Linked DNA regions of Homo sapiens. The protein of the gene in region 3 interacts with the protein of the main gene of each other region in a pairwise test. Each region holds a gene or a part of one and is shown on either strand. Other genes may lie near its edges. The genes, in order: OR5H1, STK38, MOB2 and MIIP.

Region 1 (8,608 bases), on a different chromosome or scaffold from region 3:
TCTTTCATGATAGAAACTGTCCAATGTAATCAACTTGACATCTAGTTTAATGATTACAGATTGAGGACTCAGTGTTGGCTTCTTTTTCTGGTTGATTGAGCACCTCACAGTGGCCCTAGACAGGTTGGCTTTGGTAATTGGAAATCCATATAGCTAAGCCCAAGCAAACCTCCATCCCTATCACTAGAGCCACTTGAGACTAACTGGTATCATAGAATGGGTCATTCTATCCTCTTGATTATTAAAATCCTCAGGAGAATTTTAATAATCAAGAGGATACACTGGTGAACATCCACATGAGCTACAAACACTGTCTTTAGTCCACTTGTGCTGCTATAGCAGAATACCACAAAGACAGTAATTTACAGGAAACAAAAATGTACTTTTTCAGAGTTCTGGAGGGTAGGAGGTCAAAGACCAAGATGTCAAGATGTCATCAGAATGGATTTTCTGGTGAGGACTGCGATCTGCTTCCGAAATAGATCCTTCTTGTTGCATCCTCTGGAGGTGGAGAAACACTGCATCCTTATGTGGTCGAAGGTGGAAGGGCGAGCAAACTGAAGACTCTTTTACAAGGTCCTTAATACCATTGAAAATGGAAGCATCCCTGATGACCTAATTGCCTCTTAAATTTACAACATTTAGGAGGTAATTTAAAAGGTACCATCACATCGGTTGTTAAGTTTCAATACCTTAATTTTGGAGGTAAAACAAACATTAGCATACTGCTCACGGCCTCCCAAAATTCATGTCCTTTTCATATGCAGAACACATTAAATTCTATCTCAATAGCCCAAAAAGTTTTAGCTCATTTTAACATTAACTCAAAAGTCTAAAGTCTCATCAAGATATCAACTAAATCAGGTATGAGTAAGAACTAAAGGTATGTTTCATTCTGAGGTAAATTACTTTCTAGCTATAAACTTGTGAAATCAAACAAGTTACATGCTTTCAAAATACATGATGGGCCAAGCACAGAACAAATATTTAAATTCCAAAAGAGAGAAAAGAAGGAATAACAGGTCTCAAGTAAGTCCAAAATCCAACAGTGCAAACAACATTAAATCTTAAGGCTTCAGTATACCCTTGATGCCATGTCCCACTTTCCAAATACACCGTGTTAGGGTTGCATCAATAAGGCTCCTGGTTCCTTGCTTCTCTGTCTTTGTTGAGTGCATCCTACACTGCAGCTCCGATGGATTGCAGTCCAGTGCCTGTAGTTCTCCAGGATGCCACTGTAGCTAGTAGCTATACAGGTCTGAGGTCTTCTGGCAACTCTGTTTCCACAGATCTACTGAAAATTGCCCCACTTGGGAGTCTCTGTGGTGGCTCTGACCCTGTGACAGGTCTCTGCTTGGGTGTTGAGATTATCTAAGGCATCCTCCAAAACCTAGGTGGAGAAATCCATGTGTCCGTTCTGCAGGCTTGTGAATTAGCATCACATGGATGTCACCAAGGCTTACCAATTCTGCACTCTGGGGCAGTAGCTTGAGCTGCAGGTGGGCCCAACCTGAGACACAACTCAGCTGGCAAAGGAGTTCTGTGTCATAATGCAGAGAGCACAGACTTGAGGTGGCCCTGGGCAGTGAGTCCCAAGTTCCCCTCAAGGTCCTGGCACTCTGGGACTGTAATACACATGGCAGGCTTGAAGATATCTGAAATACCTTTGGAGTCATTTTCCCATTGTCTTGATGAATAGCACTTGGTTTTCTTCTTTTTATATTAATATCGTGATCAAATGGTTACTTGGCCACACCATTGACTTTCTTTTTGAAACGTACTTTATTATTCTTTACCTGGCCAGGCTGAAAATTTTCCAAATCTTTACATTCTCCTTCGTTTTTGATTACAAACCTCATCTTTCAATAGCTCCTCTCTCCTTACATTTACTATAAGCCATTAAGAGAAGCCATGCAGCAACCCTCAACACTTTGCTGCTTATATTTTTATAAGCAAATATTTTTATAATATTTTTCTGCCAAATATTATAATTCATTGCACTTAAGATTTGCCTTCCACAAAGTCCTAAGACACAGACACAATTCAGCCAAGTACTTTGCCACTTTATATCAAGGAGAGTGTTTCCTCTAATTTCCAATAACAGAGTCCTCATTTCCTTCTAAGACATCATCAGAATATTTTTTATCATCTGTATTTCTACCTACATTCTGTTCATGACCACTCTAGTAATCTCTAAGAAGAACGAGGCTTTCCCTAACGCTCTTCTCTTCTGAATCCTAACCAGACTTGTCCTTAATGCTTCATTCCTGAAAAATACAGGCTTTTTCCATCATTCACTTCAAAACTGCTGTAGCCTCCACTCATTACCTCTTTCCAAGACACTTCCACACTTTAGGTATTTGTTATAGGGACACTCCACTTCTTGGTACCTATTTCTGTCTTGACCTATTTGTGCTGCTATAACAGAATGCCAGAGACTAAATATTTATAAATGATGAAAATTTATTTTATTATAGCTCTAGGAGCTGGTATTTTCAAGATCCAGATGCTGACAGGTTTGGATGTCTCATAGGGGTCCCGTCCCTGCTTCTAAGATGGTGCCTTGATGTCTCGTAGGGGTCCCATCCCTACTTCTAAGATGGTGCCTTGAAAGCTCTTCTGGAGGAGAGGAACACTGGGTTCTCATGTGGTGAAAGACAGAAGAGCAAGGAAACTGAAGGCTGTGTGAAACCTTTTTTATAAGGGCTTTAGCCCATCAACAAGGAAAGAAGCCCTTATGACCTAAGCACCTACTAAAAGCCCCACCTCTTAATACTGTCACACGGGCCATTGTTTCAACACCTGAATTTTGGAGGGGAAACATTCAAACCATAGCAGATATCTACATAATTTATACCCAGTTAGAGACATCTCTCCAAGCACCTTCTCTCAAATATCCTTTTCACCAGTATTCTAATTATGCTCCTTCCAAGTCCCTGATCATCCAGCCTAACCATTAGTCATAGCCTATAAATTGATACATAATCACACATTTATTTATTTCTCCTTTTAAGCAAATTGGACAACCAAGTACATCAGTTAAAATTTTTCTAACTGGGAGGATTTCCCTTCACCATGGTCCTTCCAAAATGTCCCAGAAAGGAGCAGTAGTGCTGCAGCCACCCGCCTGAATATGGTGCACAACCATTTGTATCCAGGTCTGAGTCTTCTCTTCCACTGTCAATCGATTATAAGAAACTCCCTATGAAGCTATTGCTGAAGGCTTGCAGAGATAAGGCAGTGTAGCAGAAGTAGGGACATTAATAATTTACCTTTGCGTTAGTCCGTTAGTCTGTTCTTGCATTACTATAAAGAAATATCAGAGACTGGGTAATTTATAATGAAAAGAGGTTTAATGGACTCACAGTTGCACAGTCTGTACAGGAAGCATGGTTGAGGGGGCCTCAGGAAACTTACAATCATGGGGGAAGCTGAAGGGGAAGCATGTATGTTGTACATGTCCAGAGAAGGAGGAAGAGAGAGAAGGGAGGAGGTGTTACACACTTTTAAACAACCAGATCTTGTGAGAACTCACTATCATGAGAACCGAAAGGGGAAGTCCACCCCTATGATCCAATCACCACTCACCTGGACCCTCTCCAACATTGGGGATTGGAATTCAACATGAAATTTGGGTAGAGCAGCAAATCCAAACCATATCACCATCCATAATCCAAGTGCAGGCAATTTTATTTCTTTAATAAATACTTTTGCTGTCAAGAAAGGTACATGTCACTATTTAAATATGAAATATAAATATTACAAGTAGGTAAATTAGGTTTTCTTTTTTGAATGGATGCTCCTTAACATGTTATTCTGTTAATGCTCTAAAGAAAATTCTGAACATGCTATCACCATTTTCAAAATCGTTCAATAATAGTTCATTGGTTTTCCTGTAAGTTGGGGTAAAGAACATATCTTTGAACTACCCGACAAGGTCCCACCCATGCTGGCCTCCCTGAACACACTTGGTCCTTCCTGATTCTCTCTTTGCATACCAGCCACATTTATTATTTGTTGTTTCTTCAATGATCAAGGCTTTCTGATAATCTAGGTCTTCCCACCATGAAGACCTGTTGGATGCAAATGTCCACAGGCACTGCTTTGTTAAAAATAAAGGCTCTTGAGAGACCCACCCCAGAATTACTGAAACAGAATCTGCGTTTTGACAACATCACTAGGAAAATCATAGGCATTATAGTTTGAGAAGCACAGACCTAGGACACCTCCCACTGCAAGCCACTCCCTGGCTTTGTTTTACATTTGCTTTTTGTCTTCTTCCTAGTAAAATTTCCCATTGGATTTTAGCTTATAATGGGGGATCTAAATATATGTCTAAAATTTGCATGTCTGAAATTTGCATGGGAAGGACAATTGTATTTGAGGTTGCTCCCAAAGAGGATCTAGAACTTTGGCTTTATTAAAATTATGTTTTGGTTACTTCAAATAAGACTATACTAATTAAAGCACTAACAGTAAATTTTACATATAAACTAAAGTTTGAACAAATATGCCAGAAGTGTCATCCATGGTGGTAAATAGTAACATAAAGTGTTATTTCAATTGTTAAAACTAGAAGTGTCTACCATGAAATGATGTTTGTGATTCCAGAAGTTTGTAATGCCCTTGGGGACAACCTGAACTTACACTTGTGCAAATGCACAATGCCCATTAGAACAGCTTCAATTTGTCCTACAGGGAGTCCTCTGACACTGTTATGAGAATTTCAGTTTTTCATTCCTTTCTCTTCTGGCAAAAGACCCTAGTGGCACAACTGGGTCATTTATGTGCTCAAAGCATATTTAATAAACAACATTTTTCTATGCTTGGAAAAAGAAACCTTCAAAAAGAATGAATATGCCATGAATGGCTACCTGTATTATTGACATTGCTGTGCTACTGTATGTATTTTTGTTTAGAAAGCACAACGTGTTTAAAGGATATCCACAATTTCCTTCAATATATGGGTAAGGAAGAAATAACTTCTCTAATTTTTATTATAATTTATAGAAATGTTGATAATGCCATTTAATTCATTAAAATTTTAGATTGGGTAACAAGTTGTCATAATAGAAAGTCAGAAACTGGATGACTCTGACTGGACTATTTTTATATTTTAGTTTTATGACTCTAATATGGATAAAGAGTTATAAGACTGAATTTTTCCTTTAATATTTTGCTATTTTGTTAATCTTATTATGATGAGTTTATATAAATTAGGGCATTAAACAACTAAAACTTGGTTTAAAGATTCAGATAATAATGATTCTTAGAATTATTTCTTGGAATTATTCTGATATAAATACCCATTCCTCTGAATCAACCACATTCTCCAATTAAAACTTTTAAGGTGAGTCACTTACATATTAACTCCTGTATCCTTACACTCATGTTTGACAATAATTTGAGAGCTCACACTGTAAATTTTGTTGATGTGAATAAAGGTTGCATTAAGTAAAGTCCTGGTATTTTGGCTTTGGCTGCCTTGAAACCAATATCTTTTGTCCCTCTCTCCATATTCCAAATGTAGGATCAGTGTATTTAATTGGCCATCCTAGATCATGTCCCTTCACTTTAGATGTAAGAAAAATGGGAAAATGAGTTTCTAGTTCTTTTGGCAGTATGTTACCTCTGACAGCCACTATGATTTCGATGGCAAAAAAGGAGATCACACCTTGGCCATTTACAGGACATATGTCCACCTTGTTACCTCCTTAATATAACTTGCTCAAGTTGATTTTCTTGCCATTCCTTTTGGTTCTGTTTTACACTCCAAGGATGCATCATCTTTAACTATGCCTTTGACTGCCTTTGACTACCACAATGAATCCAAGCAATCATTTCTATTGAGCTCTAATAGGCTCATATTACTGATTGGAACACATCTAGTTGTCCAGATGATGCTCACTCCAAAAACTTGTCAGCACACCTGAGTTCTCAATGTTTAATATCCATCTTCCCAGTCACCAAGGGACTCCTCTCTCCTTCACTGACCACTTACTGCCTACAAAATATGTCACAGAATACTAGAGACTCTACATTCTGAATTCTTTAGAATCTATTTCTTTGTCTTACTGTCTCTTTCAATGTCATATCACACCAAGACCATACATTTAACATGCATTTGAATCCCCCGGAGGGTATTTTCAAAATGCAGATCCCCAGACCTAATTCCTTAAATAACTTCTACATTAAAACCTCATAACATATTTTTCATAAAAACTCACTCAGATAATTTTTATGTGTAATGTGATTTGGGATTGCCTGGGCCTTACTAACAAGTTTCTAATTAATATCCCTGAGTACAGTTTCTTCTTCTTGCAGCATATTTTCTACACTATCAAAAACTAAATTAAAAAAAATTAGGATGTAATTTCCCATCTTAAAATTTTTGGCACATGCTTATTGTATGAAGAATAAAGTTTAAGATACTTCACATGGCATTTATTTTATTTATTTTTAATTCAGACCGTACAAAAATCTTTCCTGTTGACATTGTATCATATGCCAGTCAAACAATTTTTCTACTGCACTCAATAGTGTCCATATAAATGTTGTGCATACAGAGAATGCCTCTTGTTTTACCTAAATCTGCTAATTACTGCACAGTTTCAAACCAAAATATATCATTTTTTCATGTCTTTATTGCAACAAATAGAGATTCATCAGCTATAGGACTGATCAAAAAATTGAGAGGGTTCTGATCATTTTAGGTTTTCCTTCAGCACCTCTTCCCCAATTTCAACTGATAATGCCATTGCAAATGTTCCCTTTCATTTGTTGCATTTTATTTTAGAGGGCATGCTGTGAGGACATGGAAGAGGAAAATGCAACATTGCTGACAGAGTTTGTTCTCACAGGATTTTTATATCAACCACAGTGGAAAATACCCCTGTTCCTGGCATTCTTGGTAATATATCTCATCACCATCATGGGGAATCTTGGTCTGATTGCTGTCATCTGGAAAGACCCTCACCTTCATATCCCAATGTACTTACTCCTTGGGAATTTAGCTTTTGTGGATGCTTGGATATCATCCACAGTGACCCCAAAGATGCTGAATAACTTCTTAGCTAAGAGTAAGATGATATCTCTCTCTGAATGCAAGATACAGTTTTTTTCGTTTGCAATCAGTGTAACCACGGAATGTTTTCTCTTGGCAACGATGGCATATGATCGCTATGTAGCCATATGCAAACCTTTACTTTATCCAGCCATTATGACCAATGGACTGTGCATCCGGCTATTAATCTTGTCATATGTAGGTGGTATTCTTCATGCTTTAATCCATGAAGGATTTTTATTCAGACTAACCTTCTGTAACTCCAACATAGTACATCACATTTACTGTGACACTATCCCATTGTCTAAGATTTCTTGTACTGATTCTTCTATTAATTTTCTAATGGTTTTTATTTTCTCAGGTTCAATTCAGGTATTCAGCATTGTGACTATTCTTGTATCTTATACATTTGTTCTCTTCGCAATCTTAAAAAAGAAATCTGATAAAGGTGTAAGGAAAGCCTTTTCCACCTGTGGAGCCCATCTCTTCTCTGTCTCTTTATACTATGGACCCCTTCTCTTCATTTATGTGGGCCCTGCATCTCCGCAAGCAGATGATCAAGATATGGTGGAGCCTCTATTCTACACTGTCATCATTCCTTTGTTAAATCCTATCATCTACAGTCTGAGAAATAAGCAAGTCACAGTTTCATTCACAAAAATGTTAAAAAAACATGTTAAGGTTTCATACTAATATCCTTTCTCTAATTACAAAAATAGTCACAAAATTATGCAAGTTAGAGGTACCTATGTTGTTTCCAGTGTTCAAACATTTTTGCAAGTACAACTGTTCTAGCACTTTAGTGAGCTAATGTTTTAGTACCTAATAAACTAATCGCAATATGTCTATATGTTATTCAAAAGCATTCAAGAAATTTTCATACTGTTCATAATAGAATAATGACTGTAGAAATCAAATAAAACTATTTAACAGTTGTATATGTTATTCAATGTGCATTTATAAATGCATTAATTGCTAAAATAGCCTAGTTTATCATATAAGGACTTGAGTATGATGGTTTTGATACTAATACTACTGAATTACCTGCGATATCCATCATATACCATAACTGAGGCAGATTTGTTTTTGAGTGAACAGAGGTAAGTCCCAATGATTCTGCTAACCATCAAGGTCTTCCATTTCATTATATTAGGAAAGGGTGAATTCTGTTTCTTGAAGGAAGTCAACTCGCAGGTCAGACAGAAATGGAAATGCAATGAGAAAAATAAAAATAGAAGGAATGAACAGTGAAGGCACTGCCATAGTGTAAGAGCATGCTCTTAACTCTATGTGCTCGTATGAGTAAGAAGAGGCAAGCTGCCTCTCACTTTCTAGGATGGCTTCTAAGGCCCTTCCCAGCTATGATTATATGATTTTAGACAACCTGGAAGCCTTCCCTAATTCAGGAAATTAAAAGATTAAATAGAATAACTGCATTTGGAGTAGACATAGAGAAGAAATAAGTATCATAAAAGAAAGAAAGTGGTCTTAATGTTTTTATGATGAAGCTACCAAGATGTGTAAAAATCAATAATATTGCAAGGT
Region 2 (8,177 bases), on a different chromosome or scaffold from region 3:
TTCTCTTTTATGTTTTCCAATGTTCTTAAAGAAAACAGATAATTTTATGAAGAAAATTTACAACCAAAAGAAAAATTTCACTGCAAGTTCCTGCATGTCCTCCCCTCTTCTCCCAAAATAAGTAGGTTTTCTTCTCCCTGAACCTTTCTTCATGTTTTTCCTAATTGAGTACCACAACCCTTCCTTGCCAAACAGAAAGCTCTTTCAGAGGTGGTACTATACTTTTCCCTCTTTCAAGAAGCCAATAGGAATTCTGAACACTGAGGGATCAATCTATCACCTGTGCCTCTGAATACTATTCACATTTCCCCGGGGTACCAGGTTTTTTGTTTTTTTTTTTTTTTGAGATGGAGTCTTGCTCTGTCACCCAGGCTGGAGTGCAATGGTGCAATCTCGGCTCACTGCAACCTCTGCCTCCTGGGTTCAAGCAATTCTCCTGCCTCAGCCTCCTGAGTAGCTGGGATTACAGGCACGTGCCACCACACCCGGCTAATTTTTCTATTTTTAGTAGAGACAAGGTTTCACCATGTTGTCAGGCTGGTCTCGAACTCCTGACCTTGTGATCCGCCCGCCTTGGCCTCCCAAAGTGCTGAGATTACAGGAGTGAGCCACCGTGCCTGGCCCCGGGGTACCAGGTTTTAATAATATACTGCTCCTTTTATACTTGCAATTATTGCGTCAGTAGGTCATCCAGTTTGGGCATTTTTCATTAACAGGAATGACCTTGCATGGGCTCTTTCAAGCTCTCCCCAACAGATTGCTCTTGTGCCCAAGCAGGATCATTTCCAAGAATTGCGGGGACAAAGTCGCAAATGCTTTCAACTCTCCACCACTACCTATATAACTCCTTTCTGTAAATCCTCCCTCCTAGGGTCATCTTTTTAGAGCTGTATCAATCTGGTGGGGAGAAATAAAGGGTGGAGATACACTATTAGTTTCCTTCTCGAGAGGCAGTGCAGTACTGGGAAAAGCAAGCTCTTTGAGTTCAGGAAGTAGAGCCCAACTTTTGGTCCCAGTACTCAATGGCTGTGTGATAACAAGAGACATTATATATACCTTTAGAGTCTTAATTTCACCATCTATAAAATGGGTTACTGTCCTGATTATGGGAAAAAAGCAGCCTGTAAATAATAAATGTTGATTTCCTTCTACCTTTCAACTCTCCCCCTAAGTCAATATTTAAACACCAACACCATCTCTGGCAAAACAGAGAACAGAGATCTGGGACTGCGGAGAGAAGAAAAAGAGAAAGCAGACAGACAAAGCAATTAGGATGTGGGGCTGGCATGCCTGACTCATTTAATTCCATATATTTGTTATATCAACAATCATGACTTAATGGTATGTTAGAAGCTTTGAAGTTTTGCAATATTTTTCTACTTGACAAGTAGCTGTGATTTTTACCTCACCAAATGCTCCTCTGCCTATTACTTTTAAGGACTCAAAATCTTCCAATCCAAGTCTTGTTCTCTTCAAACGAAGAAACTCTGTTTCCTTCCGAGCATGTGCTGATCTCCGGAGTCGTTTCTAATATTTAAATAAAAAAGGGAGGAGACGGGAAGGAACTGAAATTCTGAAACTCTGTAACAAGTCATGTTTGTGACTTACCCAGCTAGAAAACAGGTCCAAGTGGACTAAGGATAATCTTTTCACATATGAAATCACCCCAGAAGGATCCTTAAGAGGTCACTTCTCCCTTTCCTGGCATTTAGACACAACATCCAAGCCACACTGAACAGATGGGTGCCTCCTCTGGGAACTCTGACTAACCTACTTCAGCAATCCACTATCCTAACATTTTTGGTGAAGGGAGGGATAAATAATCAACAATATTTTCCTTTATCCTGTTTAATATAAATTAAAAATGTGTTCTTATCTTTCCCTCTGGCTTAAACACTGTATACTCTAACTTTCTGTTATTTCTACAAGTATTGGGTATTTTTCACCACCGTCCTGGGTTCTGCAAGCCAGTCCTATTTTTGAAGGCATTTCCACTACCATTTCAGTTCCTTGCACAGTCCCTTGTTAACTATATTTTCTCCTACTGTATCTGTGGGCACTGGGTGGAAGGGCTGATTTGAGATGGATATTTTGCCTTAATAAAGATTTCAGGAACATGACACACCGGGGCCTGTCGGGGCATGGGGGGAAAGGGAGGGAGAGCATTAGGACAAATACCTCATGCATGCGGAGCTTAAAACCTAGATGACAGGTTGATAGGTGCAGCAAACCACTATGGCACATATATACCTATGTAATAAACCTGCATGTTCAGCACACGTATGTATCCCAGAAAAAGTAAAATAAATAAATATTTCAAAAATTTGCCCTACTCCTACGGAGACTTTTCAGTGAATTCTATAAAAATGCTACAACTTGCTCTTTTAAAATTTAATTTGATTTCATCCCTGCTTTCTCTTGGAATTCTAAATCTAGTTTACTATAACTGCATCTAGAGAAGCCTTCCTCTCCTAGGTACTTAATAATTAATCTGTCCCTCTGAATTAACACCCAAATCCGGAAGCACACTACCCCTCAAGTTCCTCTGTTATTGAGCCAAAACCCTTCTCATGTGTACCAAGGCTAACAACTCACTGGACAAGATACAACCTGCCACGCTGGGTTTTAAGGAAAACATTGCCAATATTAATTACCTCCTCATCTTTTAGGCCTTCTTCTTCCATCACCTTTTCTAACTTCTTTTGTCTAAAACAAACAAAAACAAAAGACATGAAATCACATCTGAATGATAACTTTCTGAAAATTCTGTAACTTAATACTGTAGTAGATTTTTAAAAATGACACAAACAGGTAAATCTCAAAATGTCTCATTAAAACAAAAAAAATTAAGTTACTAAGACAAGTAAAAAGATTTCCATCCTTTGTTAGGCCTACTTTTTTTTGGCGGGGGGAGGGGGGCAGGTTGCGAGGAGAGGAGACAGAGTTTTGTTCTGTCACCCAGGCTAGAATGCAGTGGCGCAATCTCAGCTCACTGAAATCTCCACCTCACAGGCTCAAGCAATCCCACCTCAGCCTCCCAAGTAGCTAGGACTACAGGCGCGTGCCACCATACCTGGCTAATTTTTAAATTTTTTGTAGAAATGAGGTCTCATTATATTGCCCAGGCTGGTCTCAAACTCCAGCCTGACCTTCCAAAGTGTTGCGATTACAGGTGTGAGCCACCATGCCCCGCCCTTAGGTCTACATTTTTTAAAAGACTGTCTAAGATGTTAATGCAACAAAGACTCTTGTTTCAAAAAAATGTCCTCTCTTGGTTTTGGGTGTTTTTTTTTTTTTTTTTTTCCAGTTATTTCCTCCTTACCAAACCACAAAACAGCTGGTATTTGATAAACTCTTATATCATGCTGTTTCTTTCCCTCTCTCTGACTGAAGTCTACTTCCTTTATTTCTGCATCTTCCTCCTCTTCCCTGCCATGAGGAAAGGGTAACAAACAACAAAGTTAAAAGCAGAATTTGGAAATTTAAGGGGAAAAAGTGATCAAAAAGGTGACTGGCACCACTATCAAAACTCCATATATCAGGCTGGGTGTGGTAGCTCACGCCTGTGATCCCAGCACTTTGGGAGGTGAGGCAGATGGGTCACTTGAGGTCAGGAGTCCAAGACCAGCCTGGCCAACATGGTGAAACCCCATCTCTACTAAAAATATAAAAATTAGGCCAGGTGCAGTGGCTCACGCCTGTAACCCCAACACTTTGGGAGGCCGAGGCGGGTGGATCACTTGATGTCAGGAGTTCGAGACCAGACTGGCCAACATGGTGAAACCTGGTCTGTACTAAAAATGCAAAAATTAGCCAGGCATGGTGGCATACCCTGTAATCCCAGCTACTTGGGAAGCTGAGACAGGAGAATCACTTGAACCCAGGAGGTGGAGGCTGCAGTGAGCAGAGATCACACCACTCACTGCACTCCAGCCTGGGTGACAGAGTGAGACCCTGTCTCAAAAAAAACAAAAAGGCCGGGCGTGGTGGCTCACGCCTGTAATCCCAGCACTTTGGGAGGCTGAGGAGGGTGGATCATAAATTCAGGAGTTCGAAACCAGCCTGGCCAACATAGTAAAACCCTGTCTCTACTAAAAATACAAAAATCAGCTAGGCGTGGTGGCGAGCGCCTGTAGTCCCAGCTACTCAGGAGGCTGAAGCAGAAGAATTGCCTGAACCTGGGAGGCAGAGGTTGCAGTGAGTCAAGATCACGCCACTGCATGCCAGCCTGGGTGACAGAGCAAGACTCCGTCTCAAAAAAAAAAAAAAAAATATATGTATATATATATATATTTATATGTATATACACATGTATACATATGTATATATGTACACATGTATACATATATACATATACACATATGTATATACGTATATATACACACATATATATACACACACATATATGTAATATATGTATATATATTAGTACACACACACACACACACATATATGTATATAAAAATTAGCTGGGCATAGTGACAGGTGCCTGTAATCCCAGTTACTTGGGAGGGGCTGAGGCACAAGAATCACTTGAACCTGGGAGGCAGAGGTTGCAGTGAGGCGAGAGCACACCAGTGCACTCCAGCTCAGATGTCGGAGTGAGACTCTGCCTCAAAGAAAAAAAAAACCTTCAGACATCAAACTTTTGGAATACTGAACTTTAGAAAGTACATGCAGTAATGTTTTTGATCTATAGTCTCATAAAACTAAAAGAAGCAAGTAAAACTTCCTTACAACCAATTCCACAGAACCTTCATTTATTCAGCACAATAAATGAAAGCACATGGGCTAGAATCTCTCCTCCACCACTCATCAGCATTCCAGATAAACAGGCAATGTGTACAAACAGAGCAAAGAAGGATAAGACTACAGTATGCTGGCCAGGTGCGGTGGCTCACGCCTGTAATCCCAGCACTTTGAGAGGCTGAGGCAGGCAGATCACGAGGTCAGGAGATCGAGACCATCCTGGCTAACACAGAGAAACCCCATCTCTACTAAAAATACAAAAAAAAAAAAAAAATTAGCCAGGTGTAGTGGCCGGCGCCTGTAGTCCCAGCTACTCGGGAGGCTGAGGCAGGAGAATGTTGTGAACCCAGGAGGCGGAGCTTGCAGTGAGCCGAGATCGCACCACTGCACTCTAGCCTCGGTAACAGAGCGAGACTCCATCTCAAAAAAAAAAAAAGAGTGTACAGTATGCTGCAGAAATAGCATGTAGTCCATTGTGGCTGACGCACACAGCACTACAAATGCCACACCAAGAAGGTTGGATCTCATTCTGTAGACAACTGAGTGCTAAAAGAGGCTTGTGTGCAAAGGAGTGATGTGATAAGATTTCTATTTTAGAATGGTAACCAGCAGTAATGAGGATCTGATGGACTGGCAGGGAAAGCAACTGAGAAAGAGGCTAGTTGAGAGTTATTGTAATGATTCAGATGTACAGTAAAGATCTGGAACTAGGGCAGGAAAACTAGAATGAAGTGAATAGAGCTATTGCAAATATGACCAACTGGCAATAGGAGTCAAGAGAAAAACCTTAGAATTTCCTGTCTAGAGGGATATGATGCCACTAATCAAGACAGGAAACAGAGAGAGGAACACGAACAGTTCTCCCAGTTCCCAGAATATTTTGGGATACATGTGCATCTATGCGTGCACATGTATTAGAGAGAAAAGGCTGTACTCTTAGTAGTTTCGGGAGTGTAAATTAATTCCATTGCAAGTGGTTAGGTAGTTGAAGCAGAGAAGAACAAGAAAAGTCAAAGCATAACATGCTAGGCAAAAGCTCTAAGAACACAGCTGTGGTCAGCTCTTTTTGTGCCTTGAGTACTAAACACCATCATACGTCCTGACTACACGTTTTTGAATGACTACATCAGAATGGGCTACCAGTCCAATGCACTATCCACTGTGTCACAAAAGTGGCTCCTTCTAATTATATTTTAAACCTAAATACAAACTAAGAGGTTTTCCACAGGTTTACTGAAGTGTAATTAAATTGGTTGCAGAATACCTGCCTGAGAGTGAAGTTAACTCCTTGAACACAATCAGATTATTTCATTAGAGAAAGTATCCAGAAAAAAAAAGCCTATCCATGATAACAATTAGGACCAGGTCCACAAAGACCTTGAGGACACCAAAAACAGCAAGGACAGCCTGAAATGAGACTTAAAAATGACATCCTCTGTGAGATGACATCAAAGGAATTACTGTTAACTTGGTTAGATTCATGGTGGCATTTGCATTATGCAAGAAAATGGCCATATTTTTGGAAATGCATACTTGACAGTATGTAGGATTAAAATGACAGATGTTTGGAATTTACCTTAAAACACAATAGCAAGAAAAAACAAAATGGGATAGATGAAGAAAATGTACCAAAGCCCTAAAATTATTAAATCTGAGGGATGAATATATTGAAACGGGGTCACTATATTATTCCACCTATGTTTAAAATTGTTCATAATGAAAAAGAATAGCAGGACTCTCCACACAGGCATGTTCTCTGGTAGCAGTGCCAGGTTAACTAACACTCCAGCCCTTGGTGGAGCCACTCTTCCCTTCAATTCCAATGTTCAAAACCAGAACCCTAGGAGAGAGACGAAGCCACTTTCACACTTAGAGGCCATATCCAGCCTCACCCCAGTGATGCCTTCCATGTGTTCCATTTAGTTGCGTGTGTGTTCATTTCTTATATGAGAGAGTGGTAAGTCCTTCTGAAGGCAGGGACTATATCTGAATTCCCTATGTCCACTAAGAATAGTGCTTTGTACACAGCTACTTTCTAAATGTATGCTGCTAAATTTTAAAAAGTCAGAATGTATAGCAATGTGCAGACACATTCATGACTACTACTTACAATTAGCCCCCTTTTCTAATCTAATTTAGGGTCCCCTCTTGGCATAGCCTGATTTGGAGGTAGCAGGGATGAGAGAATAGGGCTATTCCACCCTAATTGAAAACAGACAGTATTTTGGTGAGACACTGAAAACCAGGAAAAATAGTGTATTTAACAGAAATAGGGCCAGGCATGGTGGCTCACACCCGTAATCCCAGCACTTTGGGAGGCTGAGGCTCGCACACCGCCTGAGGCCAGGAGTTGGACACCAGCCTGGCCAACATGGTGAAACCCCATCTCTACTAAAAATACAAAAATTAGCCGGGCGTGGTGGCACGTGCCTGTAATCCCAGCTACTCAGGAGGCTGAGGCAGGAAAATCTCTGGAACCTGGGAGGCAGAGGTTGCAGTGAGCTGAGATCGTGCCACTGCACTCCAGCCTGGGTGACAGAGCGAGATTCTGTCAGAAAGAAAAGAGAAGAGAAGAGGAGCGACAGATCGAGATTCTGTCAGGAAGAGAAGAGGGGAGCGGAGGGGGAGGGGAAAGGGCTGTGATTACATCTCCATGATTAAAATTCAGAAAATGTCTAATAAATACTTTTTTTTTTGAGACAAGAGTCTTACTCTGTCACCCAGGCTGAAGTGCAGTGGTACTATCTCGGCTCACTGCAACCTCTGCCTCCCGGGTACAAGTGATTCTTCTGCCTCAGCCTCCCGGATAGCTGGGATTACAGGTGCCCACCACCACGCCCAGCTAATTTTTGTATTTTTAGGAGAGATGGGGTTTCACCATGTTGGCCAGTCTGGTCTCGAACTCCTGACCTCAAGTGATCCACCCACCTTGGCCTCTCAAAAAGTACAGGGATTACAGGCGTGAGCCACCACACCCGGCCTTTTTCCTTTTTTTCTTTTCTTTTCTTTTTTTTTTTTTTTGGAGACAAGAGTCTAGCTCTGTTACCCAGGCTGGAGTGCATGGCACAATCTCGGCTCACTGCAACCTCTGCTTCCCGGGTTCAGGTGATTCTTGTGCCTCAACCTCCCGAGTAGCTGGGATTACCGGCATATGCCACCATGTGTGGCTAATTTTTGTACTTTTAGTAGACACGGGGTTTCATCATGTTGCACAGGCTGGTCTTGAGCCCCTGACCTCAAGTGATCCACCCACCTCGGCCTCCCAAAGTGCTGGGATTACATGTGTGAGCCCCTGTACCCAGCCAGAAATACCCTAAAATTAACACTACACAGATTCTTTAAAATCTCAACAAATTACTTCAGTTCTACACTCTGGTTTGATATCTGGTCAGTGAAGAACATCAGGAGGTCTGGACTTACTCATTCTT
Region 3 (8,177 bases):
AGATAAGGGGGGCTTATTGTTTTATTTCTTTTCCAATTTGGATGCCTTTTATTCTTTCTTCTTACCTTATGGCACTGCCTATCTTAGGCGAGTTCTGATATACTGCGCTTTCCAAAGAGTTGGTCCATTTAACCCAAGCCATAGAATTCATGTGCACAGAGGGTTTTTTTCCAATACTTCCTTATTATCCTTTTAACATCCACTGGGTCTACAGTGATACTCCTCTTTACATCCACAGGGTTTAGTGACACTCACTCCTTTTTATTGATCATTGCATCTTCTCTCTTATCTTTGTACCTACTAAAGGCTTACCAATTTATTACCTTTCAAAGTCATCACATTTTGATTTCACTCATTTCCCCTATTGTTTTAAAAATCAATCTCAGTGCTTTCTGTTCTTATTTACTTTCTTGTCCTTGATTTTGACTTATTTTGCTCTTTTTCTAGTTTAAGTTGGAAACGTAGATTACTGAAAGTCATCTTCTTTTTCTAAGAAAGCATTAATCCTATAAATCCCCTCTAGGCACTGCTTGAGTTATGTCTCACAAATTCTGACATGCTGTATTTTCCTGTGTACAGTTTGTTAAAGTTTTTTTGTTGAGGCATCCTCTCGGACCCATGGACTACTCAGAATTGTATTAGTCTGCAAGTGTTTGGAGACTTTCCTGTTCTCTGTTACTGATTTCTAATTTAACCCCACCATGGTCAGAAAACTTACTTCGTATGGTTTTGATTTTTTAAAATTTGTTAAGGGCTCTTTTGTGACAGGTATGCTCCATCTTGGTGGCTAATCTTTGTGAAGTTGAAAAGATGGGTGTTCTGCTGTTGAGGCTGCAGTGCATGTGTCATTTCAATCCAACCCACGGGTGGGGTCATCGGGCTCCGTGCTCTCGCTGACTGTCTATGAGGCTCCATCACTGAGGAGAGGGCTGCAATCCCCGGCGATCATGTGATTTCTACACAGGCCGTCCGTTTGCTTTGTGTGGAAAGCCCTGTTGTCTGGCGCACACACATTTATGGCAGGATTTCTTCAAGAGCTGCTCCTTTTCTAATTAGATAACCTTCTTATTCCTGGTCACTTCCTTCCTCGGAGTCTCCTTTGGCACTGACATAGCCACTTCCGCTTCCTTCTGATGGGTGTTTTCTCAGCACATCTTGTCCTCTTACTTCTCACCCGCCTGCACCACAGCACCTAGAGTGGTGTGACACACAGGGTGCTTATGCCCCACATTCCTATGTTGAAAGCTTAACCCCAGACGCAAGGGTATCTGGAGATGGGGCCTTTGGGAGGCGATGAGGTTGCAAGGGTAGAACGCTCATGAACAGAACTGGTGGCTCCGTCGCCCTGCCTTCCTTCCAGCAAGAAGGTGCTGTCTGTGGACCAGGAAAGGGACCCTCACCAGACACTGAATCTGGCTAATCAGATCCAGTGACGTGGTCAGTGCCCCCTTCCTGGTCCACAGTGGATCTTCACCTTGGACTTTCAGCTTCCAGAACCGCAAGAAATAAGATTCTGTTGTTCACAAGCCACCTAGCCTATCATGTTTCGTGACAGCATCCCGAATGAAATACAACAAATGAGCTTCTTGTAAACACCAGAGAGTTGGTTATTTTAAAAATACATTCTCATAAGCTGCCCAGTCCCGTCTGTTCATCTGTTAGCATTTAGGTTTTCCACTATTTGCTGTTTGTTGCCTCTGTTTCTCATTCCTTATGGTATTTCTTCTTTCCTGCTTTCTCTTGGGCCACTGAAATGTTTTTGTATTTCATTTAAATTTACCTATTCTGATTCTGACTGCGTCTCTTCACATAAGCTCTGCAAGGCCTGCTCAAAGGGCTGTAACACGCAACTCAACCCCACATGCTCTCCATGGCACCCACACATGTGCTTCCACTGGAGCATAGCAGCTCTCTTGCCCACAGCCCCACCGCCGCCAGGCCCCACAGCCGCCACAGCCCCACCGCCACCACAGGCCCCACGGCCGCCCTGGAAATGGCACTGCACAGGCCCCACGGCCGCCCTGGGAACGGCACTGCACAGGCACTGCCGGACACTACTCTTGTCTTCTTGCACCATCACTGGCGTCTCCACAAACACTCAGTGGGAGGAGGCCCTCCTGTTGGGAGAACTCTGCAGGGAGCCTCTGGAACAGGTCTGCTGGCTGTGAGGGCTCTTGGTTTTGAGTGACTTTGGACACTGACTGGATGTGGAATTCTGGGATGACCTTTCTTTTCTCCCAGCACTGGAAGATGTGTGGGGCTTCCTTCTTCCTTCTGGCCTCCTGGGTTTCTAAAAGTGCCACGGTCATTCACTGCGGCATCTGTTGTCAGTACCAGGCCACCGCCGTCTGACTGCTGACAGAGGATGGCTGCCAAGGGCTTTTTCTTTGCCCCCAGTTCTCAGCATTTGGTTGCATGCATCTGCACGTGTCTGTGAGCCTTATTTGGGGTTTGCTTAGCTTCTTAAGTCTGCAGGTTTGTGTCTTTGTGGGAAGTTCTCAGCCATTATTGCTGCAATGTGTTTCCGGCCCCGCCCCCTTTCTCGTCTCCCTAGGAGTCAGACATCAGCCTTTTTGGGACTGTCCTACAGGCCCTAGCAGGGAGGAGACGCGCCTCAATCCCAGAGCCCTCACACGACCCAGGCAGACTTGCTGGTCTTTTGGGTGGCAAGTGGCCCTGAGGCCCTCTGAGAAGTCTCCATGTTTCTCTTAGTTTGAGTGGATTTCTGTCCCTTGGTTTGAAAGGATTCCTGGAAAGGCATTACATGCAATTAATTCACACACATCTACTACCACCATGATGCCAGCTCCAGATGAGAAGGACCAAGAGGCAAATCTGGGTGGCCTAGGCCCTCCAAGGGGACATAGGTCTGCCCAACACCACATCCTACACTCCTCCAAGGACCCCTTTTCCAAACCAACCCAGTACCACAGAACATGCAGGAGCAGAGCCTCTGGGAAGGGTGCCAGGCCCCGTCTGCCCAGGAGCAGAGGCGCTGAGCCAGCACTTGGCCACAGGTGGCTCCAGAGCCACAGTGGACACAAGGCTCTCGAGTAGCTCTCGGGTGCTGCCCTGCCACCTCAGGACCCATCTCCATGCCTGATCCATGGAGGCCACCGCCGTCTCACATTGAGCTTGCTCCCCTCAAAGCCATAAGCACTGTCCCCATCTTCCTGGGCCATGCCTGGCTGTGACACCTCATTTTCCTGGGGAATTAAGACAGTGAAGCCAGCTGTTGTCTGTACCTGCCCCGGTGTCACCCATAACCAAACCAAGCTGTGACCCATCATGGCCATGAGGGCAGGGCCCAGCAGGACTGAAGCCAAGGGGACGCCTGCCAGCTGCCTGTGCAGAAGCTCCCCTTGGCTTCTTGAAGGCAGAACTCAGCTTTGTCTGGGGACCACGTCTCCCTGTGCCAGGGCCAGGAAAGCCATGTCTGTGGGCAGGATGACTTTCAGGACGCACTCACAGGCACACATTCTGTCCCTGACCTGTGTGCACTGACAACAACGGGACATCAGGGAAAAGCTTCCGCCCTCCTCAGCCGCACATGTCCCAGGCTAAGCCCAGCAGACCCAGCCTCCTCCTGCCTGCAGCCTCCAAGGCTGCTTTCAGCAACCCAGGCCTGGCGGCGCTCCTTCCCATGCTACGCAAGTGAGGTGCTCAGGGCCACTAACGGACACCCATTTACTGAGGAAATCAGGGTGCAGTGCTTCCAGGAGAGAGCTACCAGCACCAGGCATGTTGGATGGTCACGGAGAAGGTAACTGAGCCCCCATGAAATGAATGGCCGAGCAAGGACCTGTGGCCTGCCCAGCCCAGCCCTCACTGTCCCATCCAGAGCTGTCACGGGAGCCAGCGGAGAAGGGCTCTCTGCAATCTTAGGGCATTCCTTCTGGAAACGTCTCTGTCCCTAGAAACATAGCCCATCAACCCCCACCAGCTCCTGCACCTTCTGGGCCCCACTGGGGACCTGGGTAGCTGGGCCACTGGCCCAGCCTGTGGCCTTTCCACAGGAAGGTGGATGTTGTGGAAGGCCTGTGCCAAGACTTCTCAGGGTCTCCAGGTGAGAACGGAATCTGAGAGGACAGGAGCCTGGGGCAGCGGGGGCTCAGAGCCCCACCGAGTCTCCCAAGAGAAAGTGGGCTGTAGCCAGGCAGCACTCACGTGTTGCACACGGCCATCGTCTGACACGTCTCTCCTGTGCAGAACTCGGAGATGGTGCTATACTGCAGGTTGATGTGGTGGAAAAACGTCGTGGCTGGAAGAGAAGAGAAGGAGCCAGATGTGAAAAACGCCAGAGCTGAGCCGCCCCGTCCACCCCTGCTTCCAGCAACAGGTGCAGGAGCTCGGCTGGGTGAGCTCTGCCCGTCCACGGGCCACATTCTCCCCTCGCGGCAGGGGGCTGCTGAGCACCAGCCGTGGGGGTCCCCCTTGAGGAGGGGCTTCGAGGAGGAGCAGGGAGGAGGGAGGGGGCCCGCCCCCAGGCCCCCGCGCACTGTTGCTGGCCAGCCACTCGTTAAGGTCAATCTCGCGGGGCAGCACCACCAGCTCCTTGAACTGGAAGTCGGTGATCCTGGCCTTGGTGTGCTCAGGCTCCAGGTAGGCCTTCCTCTCCTCCGCAGCGGGCTTCTTGCCATTAGGCTTGGCTTTGGACTTCCTGCCAAGAGAGGAGACGCGGTGTGGTCACTACACGCCCATCAGACCCAGGGTCTGCCCGGGGGGTCAGTTGTGGCCAGCGCAGGTGTAGAGGGAGCTGCCCGAGCCCATCGGGGCGACACTGCCTCCCTGCCAGGCTCAAAGGACACCAACGGGACACCAACGGTGAGGCTGCTCCGCAGAGGGGCCAGTGGAGCTGCCTTGCGTGGCACCTCCTGGGAAGAAGGGCTGGCGCTCCCACTTGCCACACGGGCCCCTGCACGGAGGGCATCCTCACCCCTCACCAAGTCCTCCAACCAGGGAGGGGCCCAGGGTTTAGGGCCCCCAGCGCCCACCTTCCAGTTTTCCAGTGCTCTTGGAAGGAAAGGAGAAGCAAACCCTCTCACTCCTGGCTTCTTTTGAGTTGGCCAGCCTGTCCCTGCCCCTGCCGCTGGTGGCCCCGGTGAAAACATACCACAGGCCTTGTGCAGGGCACCTGCCTTCCTGGCCAGCCTGAGAGCACGGGGCCCCTGGCATCAGGCGGCAGCCTGGCCTGCAGCTCCAGTATCCCTGTTGTCCACCAGGCCTGGGGAGGCCACAGGGTGATGAGGATGGGGGCCAAAGGTCTTTGTGGCAACCTGACCCTGTCCTTATTTTTTTTCTTTCTTGTTTTGAAAAGTTGCTAATGGTTTATTTAAGAGAAAGAGAAAGGAAAAATGCTCCCTGAATGCCAGGGAAATGTTTCCCTTTCAGCTTCTCACAGCAGATCTTCGCCTTAAAAGGAGACCAGCGCAGGCCTCTGGGGGCAGTGCTGGGAGTAGCCAGAGCCAGGCAGGGAGCAGGGGCAGGAGCAGGGGCAGGGGCAGGGGCAGGGGCAGGGAGGGGCAGGGGCAGGGGCAGGGAGGGGCAGGGGCAGGGCCCCTGGGCCCTGGCACTCCCACTCTGCCATCTCTCCAGAGCACAGGGCGTGGGGTCTGAGGAAGAGGAAGCACAGGTGTGGATGGGCCACATGCAGCGTGGGCACTTGGGGTCCTCACAGTACAGGGGTGGGACAGACAGGGTGAGCTTCCGTGTAGCCTGCAGCCCCTCGCCCCAGCACAGCGAGGCACCCAGACTCCACACCAGCCTGTGCCAGGCCATGCCCAGCGTGTCCACCACAGGGAAGGCTCTCCCCATGACGCTGGGCCTGGCCCTGACCACCGGCAGGTGGGCCTGCACCTCCCTGCCCTGTGCTCTCACAGCACAGCACACCACACCCCACCCGGGCAGCTACAGCCTGGGCTCGGCCTTCCCATTTGGAGGGGTGGGTTGCAGTGGCCCAGGCTGCCAAGCGGGCTACAAGCCGTCTCCCTGCTCTGTGTCTTAGGAGCTGTGTCAACTGGCAAGCTCCAGGTGGCAGTTACCTGGTGGTCGGTCACGCAGGGCTGCCAGCAGGAGCAGCTGTCAGCGCGCTCACTCTCAGGGTGTGCCCCAGGGCCCACTCAGGGAGGCTGCCCTACTGGCAGTTCCTGCCCCCTTGCCAGCCTTCCAGGCTGGGGCTACCTTCCACCTCCGGTCCTCAGAGAGGGCTGGGCAGGGGCAGAACCTGGAGACCTGGCTTCCCTCTCCCAGGCTCTGGCTGTGGTCAGGAGGTAGTGAGCAGCCGCCACTCCGGCACTGGCACCTCAGCCTCCCTGCCTCTTCCCGTCCACACCTGCTCTCCTAGAACACAGAAGAAAAGTACGCACGAGGCCCTCCAGGCTGGGCCTCCCCGAGCTGCTCCCCCAGTCTCACCCTGTCCCCAGCACCCAGGGCTGGCCGGGCCCCGGAGCTTAGTGCACTGTGAGACAAGCCTCCTGCAAGCCTACCTTCTTTGGACCGGGTCACTCATTCCCATGGGGCAGGTGGACGGGCACTGGCCCAAAGGTAGTAGGACCAAGGGGACGCGCAGGACATGGCCTCTGCTCCAGGAACGGCTGTGCGGGCACCAACAGAGGGACTTCCATGGGAAAGCCCCGAACGCCTGGCAGCACCCACGTCTCCCTGACCTCAAGTGCCCTCCTTCCCAGAAGGGCAGGCTCTCAGCGAAGGCCCAGGCCTGGGCAGGAAGCAGTCACTCTGAGGCAGCCCATTGCTCGGTCCAAGCCAGCGGCAGCTACCGAGGAGGCCTCAGAGCACACGACACCTCCATGGCACTCTTCTCGTCCTTAGTCATTCTTGGCTTTGCCCAGTGGAGAAAACACCTCTGCGGCGCCCCCCGCAGGCTCACAGGCTCTGAAACAGGCTCTGTGCCGTCCAGGCCCAGAGGTCTGCCCAGTCACTGCCTCAGTGGCCCAGCTGCCCCTCACCCAGGGAAGTGCCGAGGCCCTGCGCCCTGCTCCCAGCTCCCCCTGTGCTGCTGGCTAGGAGCCCCGGGGCACAGAAAGACCAAGTCCTTCGATGTGGAGGGAGGACTGTGGGAGCAGGCCCCGGCCGCAGGCAGGACAGAGATGGCGCTGAAGGGACTGGGGAGTGGACCCTGGACCTCAGCCCACCCACAGGGCTTCCGTGACCACTTGGAAGAAGCAGAAGGGCAGATGCTGTGTGCACAGCCCCCAAAACAAAGTCCCTCACACTATTCCAACAGGTGGGCTCTGAGCCTGGGTCCTGCCTGGCAGGCACCATGCACTTAGGAGGGCCGGGCCAGATGGAACCACCTCCTTCCTGCCTCCCACACACTCACCAGCCTCACCTCCCTCCTCCCTGCTCTAGATGACCTGTCCTGCCTGCCACAGGGGTCTGCACCCTGTTTGTGGGCACCAGCTGCTGCTCTGCCAACTTGCCCATCTTACACCAGGCCTAGCAAACTTCTCCTGGTCCTTTAAGAGCCTGTCAAATGCCACCCTCCCCATTCTCGCCAGTGGTACCCATGACGTGCCAGTCGGCCTCCTTGGCACCCAGCACGTAACTGATCCCTACTGGGAAGTGAGGCAATCCCTGCTAGACACAAATTTGGTGGGCAAGGGAAGGGGCACAGGGAGGCATCAGAGCTGCTGGGCTCCCGTGGAAAACTTAGACAACCACACAGTCAACACACAGGGGGTCTCACCCTGCCCACAGCAGGTGCACACTGCTTCACAGGCAGGGGGAGCTGGGGAGTGGGCTGGGAGCCGCCCACTCCTCATCCGCCCTGAGGGACGAGGACAGCACAACCGAGTGCCCTGCACCTTTGCCACGAGTGTCAACTTCATTATCACAGGGATGGAATCCTGGCCAGGCCCCACGGCCCACAGGAATGGGGTGCTCCAGGCTCAGAGACCCCCACTCGCCCAGAGCACGCTTGCTATGGAAGTCGAGCCTGTAGACCCTGAGGTGAGTGGGCAGCAGCAGGAGGTGGCCCTCATCTGGCACTTCCCACCACAGGTCAACGCCAAGGGGTGGGGCAGGCACGAGGGGCCCAGAAATACAAGTCCCCAAGCCCAGGCCTGGAAAATACGGTGACCAGGCAGCGTGTGGGGTGCAGGAGAAAGGCCCGCAGGTGACGCCTCTGAGGAGGGCATGGTCCTTGGACCCCACTCAGC
Region 4 (4,225 bases), on a different chromosome or scaffold from region 3:
ACATAGTGAAACCCCTTCTCCACAAAAAGTACAAAAAAATTAGCCAGGAGTGGTAGCACGCGCCTATAGTCCCAGCTACCTAGGGGGCTAAGGCAAGAGAATCAATCACTTGAGCTTAAGAGGTCGAGGCTGCAGTGGGCGGAGATGGCCCCACTGCACTCCAGCCTGAGTGACAAAGTGAGATCCTGTCTCAAAAATAAAAAAACATAGAATCACCTTCTGATCCTGCAATTCCACTTCTGTATACCCAAAATAATGGAAAGCAGGGACTCAAACAGACTTTGTTTCTCCAGAGAGAGGGAAAGGTTTTTATAGCTTCATAAACTCCAGGAAAAAGCCCCAGGACAGCATAGCCCAGTTCCATCTCTAAGCCGAGAAACCTTAGAGAAAGTTCATGCCTCGTTTCCGCATTTATTCCACTTACAAAAACAAGAATTTCATATTATGCAACCAACACATACAAGAGGTGAGTGAAGGACAGGGCACTGCCTACTCTCCCAGACTGGACATCTGGGCTCTCTGCTAACCTTGCCTCCAACTCACCGCCCAGCCCTGTTTCCTCATCTGTCCCTGCTGGGGCTCTGAATGACCTGCGGCTCCCATGGCTGGGTGGAGGAGCCATGTGACCCCAGGGACTTCCAGAGAGCCCTTCTATCAATGGATCCCGGTTCTGGGACCAGGAAGGAGAGAGCTCAGTCACTCAACACGACTCACGGCTTCAGCGGAGGCCCTCGCTAAAATGACTTTTTAATAACCTTGGCCCAGCCTGCCCAGGGGCCCCCCCTCCCCCATCTGGTGGAGGCCACTACCCAGAGCTGGGGATCTGCGGAAGGAGCCACCCTCATGGTGACGGACACACACTGCCTAGTCCCAGTGGTTGCAGTATCTTCCTTCCACAGGTGCCAGGAGGGCAGGCTGAGAGGCCAGAGTGCCTTCTGGGCCTCAAGTGCATTAGCAGGATGGAACCAGCACACGTGGGACTTGAGCTGCAGAGCACTGAGCTTTATTTACAAACTTCCACAGAATCCCTCACCCTCCACCCCAGGGTCCTCCCTCTCTGGAACTCAGGCAGCAGACAAGCTTGGGTCCACCCACCTGCCCAACCTAGGACAGCTGGGCCTGAGCTGGGCGGGCAGGGGATTCCATCTCCTGGGTGCGCCTGCCAGAGGGGAGAGGCTGGAGGCGGCGGGAATGCTGTTCTCCCCCAGGAGTCAGTCCTCAGGGCTTCTGCCGTGGGACGTGGGGCCGAGGGACCTGGGGCACTGACCAGGTCGGGGTCGGGGGCAGCATCTGCATTGGTGAGGCCTGGATGGGGAATAGGGAAGTCTCAGGGGGGCCACTTGAAAGGGACAGGTCATCCCCAGTTCCAGCCACATTCCCTCCTGGATCTTGCAGTCAGGGTGGCCTTCCTGGGTGGAGCAGGGCAGGCGGCAGGGAGCAGAGGAGTTCCGAGGGATGGCTAGGGTCAGGGCTGGAGGGCTGGACCCTGCAGAGAGACACTCCCAGGCTCCATCCTCCCCACCTCAATCCTACCCCCCAGGAGGCTCTGCAGTCCCCAGGCCTGCTGCGAGGTCTCTGTCCCTCTAGGGGGCACCCCAGGCTAGGATGCGATCTGGACCGTACCGGGTGAAAAGGGCTGCTGGTGCCGGACAGCTTCTGGTGCTGGGCCTCAGCGGAGACAGAGGACCAGAGGTCCAGGTTCCTGGGGGCTGAGCTTTTCTCAGACTTCGGAGGAAAAATGTCCCAGCCCAGCAGGCAGTGCTGTGGAAGGCAAGGAGTTAAAAGTGCCTGACCTGGGACAAGCTCCCCGCTGACTGGGCACACCCCCATCAGGGAGGAACTGTGCCCCCCATTAGGAAGGAGGCCCCCACCAAGGCAGGGCCTGTGTCTACCCACAAGACTACCCCAGCTCTCCCCTTTCTTATCCTGGCAGATCCAGCCATCCCTGGGGCCCTGAGAGCTGAAATGGGAGGAGGATAGGACGGTGACAGTGACATTCACAGGGTACTTCCTGCTGTAGGCTCTCCAAGCACCTGCATGGATTGCTTCACTCAACAGCCCCACCTCACCACCAACATCCCTGAGGATGGCGCTGTTATGTCCATTTTACGGACCAGCAAACTGACTTTCCTCTGCATCCTTCTCCTCCTCTGACCCCAGCTGCCCTACTCTCAATTTAGGAGTCAGGGGGAGTTGCCACTGGCACCCCATCCCGACCTGGAGACACAGGAAAGGACATTTTTTTTTTTTTTGAGATGGAGTCTCACTCTGTCACCCAGGCTGCAGTGCAGTGGCGAGATCTCAGCTCACTGCAGCCTCTGCCTCCCAGGTTCAAGCGATCCTCCCACCTCAGCCTCCCAAGTAGCTGGGACTACAGTGGAGGCTGCAGTGAGCTGAGACCATGCCAATGCACTCCAGCCTGGGCAGTAAGAACAAAACTCGGTCTCAAAAAAAAAAAAAAAAAAAAAAAGCAGCAGCAGCAGCACAGAGACCTAGGTTCGAATCCCAGCTCCTCCACCAAGGCGCCTCCCCCTCTGCTTCGGTCTCCCCACCTGCAGGGTGGGGGTACAGCAGTGCCTACACTCCTGGCTGCTGTGGGGGCTCCATGAGATAAGCCCCCTAAGGACTGTGCCTGCAGTACACAAAAGCGCAATAAACAGGACCCATTCATGTCATGCCAGCCTGCAGGCAGATCACCCTGGAAGCACCGGGGTACGTGGAGCGGGGGTCCTACCTCCCTTAGGTACAGGTGTGGGTGATGGAAGAGGCCCAGGCTGTGCTCCAGAGACTTGGGCGCTCACCCTTGTCGAGCCCAGTCTCGCTCTGTGACCCTCCCTGGGGATCTGGGCCAGTCTGAGCCAGCCCCGCCCTCATCACCATCCAGCCCCACGTGGCTGCTCACCCGGGGCAGGGCCAGTGTGTCAGAGGCGTCAAAGCTCTTTCGCCGGTGGATGTGGTACCGGTGCGGGGGCTCCAGGATCGACAGCGGGATGCTCACCCTGCGCAGGGGGGCAGTGGGGGACCCCTGAGGAGCCTCCCAGCGGTTGGGGGCCCACGCCCAGGCCCATCTTTTCTTAAAACCAGTGGTTCAGGCTCTGTCCCCCAAGGTGTCCCAATACTCTGGTCACTCACCTGACGTGCGCTGGCTGCGCCAGGGTCCCAGGGCCCTGCTGGTCTCGCGGTGTCCTGCACAGGCGGCAGGGGGTACCGGGATCCACAGGCACCGGGAACAGGCGCCGGTTGACACGGTAACAGTACACGCCTGCGAGGCCCATGAGAAGCCACAGCTCTCCCTGAGCCAGGAACCCAGGTCCCCAGGCTCCGTGCTGCCCTCAGCGGCCCCCAACCACACAAGCTGCCAATCCCTCTGGGAAGCCCTTCGGCCCATTTCCTCCTAACCCCTTTCCTCCCAGAACCTGGGGCCCACGCCCTAAGGGGTGGGGAGGGACATCCTCCTGGGGCCCTCAGGAGCTGGGATGGAGTCCCACCAGCACAGGGGCACTGCTGGGGAGGGTGGGATGGTGCCACACAGGGCAGCCCCTAATTCGGTGGCCAGGCCTTAGCTCACTCCACCCCTACCAGGGCTTGGCCACCCTGTCCAGACTGCAGGCCTCCCTCCATGAGTCTCAACATCTCAGGGGCCTCCCCAGGCCCCAAACCTCAAATGGGACTGCTCTGGGGCAGGGGAGGCCAGGGCAGCGCGAGGCTGGACTACTCAGCGGCCTAGCCGAGGGCCCGCACTCACATTCATGGTCTTCCTCCACGCCGCTGCCACTGCTCTCACGCAGGCCTGGCAACTGGGGTCTGAGAGGGCGAGGGGGATGAGCAGGCCGGGGGATGGAGCCGCTCAGCCGCCCTCGCCCACCCTCGCCCGCCCCTGCTCACTCAGGATGGCTGCAGATACACTCCTCCTTGTTGGTTTCCCGAAACTCCTGCAGCTTGGAGAAGAAGGCCTCAGGCTGGCTGGTGATGGAAGAGCTGGTGTCCAGAGACCCTGGTGTGGGCAAAGCACCAGGCAGCTGACGGGAGAGGGGCTGGGGGCTGCTGTGTGGCCACCGGCCAAGGCTTGGAGAGACGATCAGCCCTGGCACCCCAGGCCACCTGCTTCATCCCTACTGTGCCTCAAACAGGCCAGGAGGGCCCCTCCAGTCACTGGGACTGTTGGTTGGTTTCAGTGTCTGTCTACCCTGATGCATAGCCAACCATCCATGGAAAAAATATCGAC

What was found.
Region 1: the proteins of MOB2 (region 3) and OR5H1 interact in binary tests that used the Homo sapiens proteins (3 or more experiments, as listed by UniProt).
Region 2: the proteins of MOB2 (region 3) and STK38 interact in binary tests that used the Homo sapiens proteins (3 or more experiments, as listed by UniProt).
Region 4: the proteins of MOB2 (region 3) and MIIP interact in binary tests that used the Homo sapiens proteins (3 or more experiments, as listed by UniProt).

What each region holds. Positions count from the first base shown.
Region 1 is NC_000003.12:98,125,884-98,134,491, forward strand, and holds the start of OR5H1 (olfactory receptor 5H1), read left to right. Parts: upstream 1-4,837; 5' UTR 4,838-4,967; intron 4,968-6,796; 5' UTR 6,797-6,814; coding exon 6,815-7,756; 3' UTR 7,757-8,608. UniProt on the Homo sapiens protein: Odorant receptor.
Region 2 is NC_000006.12:36,522,937-36,531,113, forward strand, and holds part of STK38 (serine/threonine-protein kinase 38), read right to left. Parts: intron 2,707-8,177; coding exon 2,655-2,706; intron 1,528-2,654; coding exon 1,405-1,527; intron 1-1,404. UniProt on the Homo sapiens protein: Serine/threonine-protein kinase that acts as a negative regulator of MAP3K1/2 signaling. Converts MAP3K2 from its phosphorylated form to its non-phosphorylated form and inhibits autophosphorylation of MAP3K2.
Region 3 is NC_000011.10:1,476,226-1,484,402, forward strand, and holds part of MOB2 (MOB kinase activator 2), read right to left. Parts: intron 4,662-8,177; coding exon of another isoform or gene 4,661-4,661; coding exon 4,500-4,660; intron 4,262-4,499; coding exon 4,168-4,261; intron 1-4,167. UniProt on the Homo sapiens protein: Stimulates the autophosphorylation and kinase activity of STK38 and STK38L.
Region 4 is NC_000001.11:12,028,802-12,033,026, reverse strand, and holds the end of MIIP (migration and invasion-inhibitory protein), read right to left. Parts: intron 3,995-4,225; coding exon 3,886-3,994; intron 3,870-3,885; exon of another isoform or gene 3,805-3,869; coding exon 3,746-3,804; intron 3,263-3,745; coding exon 3,133-3,262; intron 3,000-3,132; coding exon 2,903-2,999; intron 1,762-2,902; coding exon 1,624-1,761; intron 1,487-1,623; coding exon of another isoform or gene 1,466-1,486; exon of another isoform or gene 1,306-1,465; coding exon 1,219-1,305; 3' UTR 982-1,218; downstream 1-981.